Linked DNA regions of Homo sapiens: region 1 is linked to region 2. A link means that fine-mapping ties the variant in region 2 to the expression of a gene that starts in the linked region. Tissue or cell type: whole blood. Region 2 holds a variant in brackets; the other region holds the start of a gene. All regions are shown on one strand. Distances are from middle to middle.

The links. PIP is the estimated chance that this variant, and not a neighbour inherited with it, causes the effect.
Region 1: TBX19 starts here. The variant in region 2 is fine-mapped to the expression of TBX19 in whole blood (TOPMed, PIP 0.91).

What each region holds. Positions count from the first base shown.
Region 1 is chr1:168,279,639-168,282,322 of GRCh38, forward strand. TBX19 (T-box transcription factor 19) reads left to right here and starts at 1,239. Exons shown (of 8, transcript NM_005149.3): 1 at 1,239-1,655. The coding sequence starts at 1,453.
Region 2 is chr1:168,093,543-168,096,226 of GRCh38, forward strand. All of the region lies in intron 3 of GPR161 (G protein-coupled receptor 161), which reads right to left. Among named protein-coding and RNA genes, the nearest start is that of GPR161, 42 kb to the right of the region's middle. The variant C/T (reference allele first, on the strand shown) is at 1,417.

The DNA of each region.
Region 1 (2,684 bases), 190 kb after region 2:
ATTACTTAGTTGTTGTTTACTTTATATCATTTATTTTCTCCATCATATTGTTAATTCTGTAAAGGCGCAGGCCATTTCTGTTTGTTCCTTGCTGTATGTGATGCTTCATAGGTATGTAGCATAGGAGATCCTGAATACATTTTCTGTCATCCTTACCCTGACTTTATCTTACCTTTTTGGGTTTGTTTTCCTTATGTTCTTGTTTTCTTACTTTGTATTGAAATGAGAGAAAAACTCACAACCCCCAGGCTCTACTCAAGGTTGGGGGCCAGAGGAGGTAGAGCTTCCTCTGCTCCTGTCTCTTCCACCCGCCATCCACTCACTCGCCATTAGTACTGTGTGTTGTGGGCAAAAGAAAAGCTTTCTACTAGTGTTTCTTCCCAGGGAATGTGGGATTCATCCTGGAATGCCAAAATAAGGATGAATTGTCTAAAGAGAAAACCAGAATGCCTTTCTGGACCAAAGATTGAAATTGCTCTGCCTAATAATGTAAACAGTTTATTTTCACTGACTGGGGGCAGAGTGTTCCTTAGCGAGATTAATATGATACTAGCTGCTTTTTTGTCTTCCTCTGGCAAAGGCTAGAGATAACAAAAATTGGGGTTCTAGACTCTAGGGAGGAAGGACAACATTCACAGCTCCATTTGTAGGAGGTGAGGAGGGCCCTTGAGAAAAGTGGGGTGTGAGCGAGTATAGGACATTCAGGAGAGAGATGATCAGTAGGGGACACCCTGGGAGAAAGAGATTCTGAGCTCTTTTCTTTTCTCCGGAGCCCTGACCCTTGAGCAGTGGCACACAGAGTGTCTTCCTTTATTCTCTGGTACAGTAGTCATGTTTCTTGGCACAGTGCCTTGGACCTTCCATACATGCTTTCTTCCCTCCAGAGCCTTCGTCTAAGATGCTGGAGAGTAGCTTATAGCCTGGGCATCAAGTTTGTCGATTCTCCCCAGGACCCTTTTCTTTATAGGTGCCACATGTCATGATTTATGCACAAACATGATTTGCCTGACAGTGCAGTCTGGGCCTGGAATAATTTTAATTAATGGGAAAATGGTCCTCAATACACCGATTAGACCTCTTCAGGTACAACAAGATAAAAGCCTGATAATTTGGATGGAGTACTCTTCTTAAATATCTACTCTGTGCACGGCAGCCAATGGGAAAGCCAGGCTCTCTCCCACCTGATCCAATGAGTAATTAAGAGAGGGCTTTTTCTTCCCTACCTCTCCCCTGCCTCCACCCCGCTCCCCAACTAAAGCTTAACAGGTTGGTGGCATAATGTGGAGACTTTTAAGGGGTGTCATCCTAGGAGCTTAGGCAAGAGCCAGGGTATCTTCTCTCCGCTCCCCAAGCACTGTTCAAGTGGGTTTGAAAAGCAGGCAAGTGAGGGAAGGAAGAAGCTAGAAGCAGGCAAGTTGGGTAACGGCTCTCGGCAAAGTTCGAGAAGTGCCTATGGCCATGAGTGAGCTGGGCACTCGGAAGCCCAGCGATGGCACTGTTTCTCATCTGCTCAATGTGGTGGAGAGTGAGCTTCAGGCAGGGAGGGAAAAAGGCGACCCTACGGAGAAGCAACTTCAGATCATCCTGGAGGATGCACCTCTCTGGCAGAGATTCAAGGAAGTCACTAATGAGATGATTGTGACCAAGAATGGCAGGTGAGTTTATCTGCCGCCCCGCGTGGGCTGGCAGGGCTTGGCAGGAGAGATGAGACCCCTTGAATATTGAAGAGGCTGCCGCTCTTCACTCAGAGGCGGCGGGATCTGATTAAACATGCTTACAGGAACGACTGTCTCCAATGGCTTTCCTCCAGCCAACTTAATTAATTTATCTGAGATCATCAGAGGATGAAGCCACCTGTCTTATGTGCATTTTAAATGGAGAAATTCTGGGGAAATTACCATAAAGTGGGGGGCATGCCCCATTGGGATGGGAAAATGGACTTAAATGTCAGAAAATAATATTAATTTGTGACTAGCTGCATACCCTATCGCAGACCTGAGCCCCAACTCCGTCCAGATAAGGTGAAAGACAACTTTATTTGGAAGCTGGATGATCTCCTCCTAAGTATAGCAAACTTGCCAGAAATGTTTGGCTAGTTGAAGATTGGAAGCAAAAGGGCAAATGTAAACTCATTGCCTATCACTTCATCTGCTTCCCCGTGTGTGTTTGTGGTGAGTGTTCATTTGAGATTGTGTGTGTTTGTGATGATATGAAAGCTGTTGCAGTAATAGTGGATGAAAACATATTATTCTGCTTTAGAGAAAAGAAGATGCCTTCTTTCTTATCAGTGCAACAAATTTAGGGATTAACTGAAACTGATCTCTGGTGGCATTTCTCAGATTCTATTAAACCTAGTCTGCTAAGGGGCTGTCCAGGTAATATTAGAAGATTTCACTTCGTAGAGGAGACGCAAATATTTTGAAACAAAATCTCACCGCTCGCAGCTTGGCCAAACTGGCTCCAACATTCAGCTGGTGTTCACATAGCTTTTCATACACATGGTCACAAAAGTACAAAATGCTGAAAGGCATTTTCAGTAGGCTTAGTTTTGGCTGAACTCTAATTATGACACCCTCGAGAGAATTCTGATAAAAGAGAAGAGCCGAGGCCATCTGAACTTCTTTCTGTCAGGCTTTTGTCCTTGTGCAAAGTGCTTCCGTTCCTGATGTCTCGGTTTTCTATAT
Region 2 (2,684 bases):
TAAACCTTTCCAAGTGCCCATACAAATTGAGAGGAACAGAATCAAGAAAGAGCCTCCAAGTTGCTTCTTGCTGGCTCTGAGACAGATCAGATCATCCTTCATACCTCTAGTTAACACTAAGGTGAGCCAGTGGCAGGGGAAGTGATTAGGGTTTCAGAATCTGCTGCAGATCAAGGCCTTGCCCACAGAGGGTCTGGTCAGCCCTGGCTCAGACAGAGGGACCAGGGACACAAGGCAGAGGCCAGGGCTCTCTCCTGCAGTCAGAAAGCCATGGACAGCGCAGGGTGAGCGGCTGGGCTGGGGCGCCACATTCTGCTTTGGTTCCCAGACTCTTACTGATGCTGCTGCCTCCTCCTGGGATCAGGACCTTCAGGGAAGAACAAGAAGAACCATCCCCCACCCCCACCCCAGCTCCCATTCCTCGGAAAGACCAATAACTTGGAACCCATTCCATAAGCTCTTCAGCCCAAAGGCATCCCACAAGCCTGCTTTCCCTAAATGAAGATGAGACCACCAGCTGCCTGGGATGTGCCAAACCAACCACAGCTGGTGTTTTCCGCCTGTGCTCACAGCTTCACCAGCTCTTCTAGGACACCTGCAAGTGACTTGCATGGAAAATCTTGGCCTCAAAAGCAGGTGTTTCTTTTTGTTCTACGAACCCTTTCCTGCTCCATTTTCTGTCCTCATTTTTTTTCCTTCTTCATTTTAACTTCATTGATCTAGAAAACATCTATTTTTTTTTGCCTAGAAGACAAGTGAGTTTACAAAATCTGGACTAATACATTAATCAGTGAAATGAAGCCCAACATTGAATGGACTCCTGGATCACAGGTCATATGTGAAAATGTGGGCTTGCAACTGGCAGGGGTGAGCATTTCAGTGGTTAAAATACTGAGATACAGAGAAATGTTTTCTCCTATGGTTAAAAGTCCCAGACTTCCTTCCTCTCTTGGAAATAAAACTCCATCAGCCCGTGAAATAAATCAGTGATGCCATTGTGTCTCATCGCCACATGGAAAGGATCTCCTGTCATCATTGCCACTGGGTGTGCATAATTAGAGTCATTTCTTTCACCCTCTTGAGAAGAAAAGTGGAAGAAAGACCTATTTCATGAAGATGAGAAATTAACTAGAGTGGTTTGAAGAGTTGCCCGAAGTCATCTGGCAAGAGATTAGGACTGTAGTCCAAGCTGAATGTTCTCCAAATCTCTCCCAGTGGCTTGGCCAGGTGATGGTCTCCTTTCACCTTGGCCCTAAAAATCCAGCTACTTGACCTCAAAACTACACAGTAAAAATGCTAGAGGCAAGATCCACAAATGTGTCCTGAGTCAGTGGGAAAGGGCCAAAGAGGAAACAGGGTATTTGCATCATCTCAAAGTATCTCCTCAGTTGTATTTATTAATTACAATGGGAAAAT[C/T]AGCAGCTTTACTGTGGAGAAAGCTGACAGGCACCACCTTAACCGAGAGATCAAGAGCAACACAACTAGCAATAAGGCATATTGGCATATGTGCCCCCTGCTATGATGTACAGGAAGGGCACATCGCCCCTGTGGCATTTTTGCCAAAAATGGATAACCTCATTCTAATCTTGAGAAAGCATCAGATGAACACAAATTAAGGGGCAGTCTACAAAATACCTGGTAAGTACTCTACAAAGCTGTCAATGTCATAAAAGACAAGGGAAGAGTAAAGGATTGTCAAAGATTGACTAAGACAATATGGGATCCTGAGCTGGATCTTTGGACAAACAAAGGACATTAATGAAAAACGGGTGAGATCTGAATCAAGTTGTAGTTAATGGCACTGCCCCAGTGTTAACGTTTTAGAGCTGTGGTTGTTCAAGACAGTAACCCTAGAGGAAGCTGGGTGTGTGGGAATTCTCTGTATTGTTTTTCCAAGTCTTCTGTAAATCTAAAATTATTTCAAAATAAAAAGTTTTAACAAAAAATCTAACCCCTAACTAGAGTAATTCCACTGGGTCCCATCAAAGGTGGTGGGATTGTGTCCGGAAACCTGTGCACACCGGATCAGTCATCAGAGGAAGGAGCAGCCTCACACGTACAAGGCCATGATGCTTCGATGGAAGGCTGAGGTTTGGCATGGACACCCCCGGATTGTCTGGGACCATCTGAGGAGATCACTGATCTGTGAGGAGGAGGAGGATGGTTGAGGAGGAAGACAGCAGCTGAGGTGGGGAGGGGGTGCTGACAAGAGGAAACACTGAAGGAAAGGATGTGGATGTGGCTGTGCCAGGAGAAGGTGGCCTGGTCCAATGCTTGGATTCTTTTTCCTCTAGTAAAGAATATACTCCAGGCCTGGCATGGTGGCTCACGCTTGTAATCCCAGCACTTTGGGTGGCTGAGGTGGGCGGATCACTTGAGGTCAGGAGTTTGAGACCAGCCTAGCCAATATGGTGAAACCCGTCTCTACTAAAAATATAAAAAGTAGTTGGGTGTGGTGGTGCGTGCCTATAATCCCAGCTACTTGGGAGGCTGAGGCACGAGGATCACTTGAATCAGGGAGGCAGAGGCTGCAGTGAATGGAGATTGTGCCACTGCACTCCAAGCTGGACAACAGAGCAAGACCCTGTCTCAAAAAAAAAAAAAAAAAAAAAAAAAAAGAGAGAGAGAACTAACTATACACACTCTGAGGCCAGAGGGCCAGGGCTGGGGTTTCAGAAAGCAGA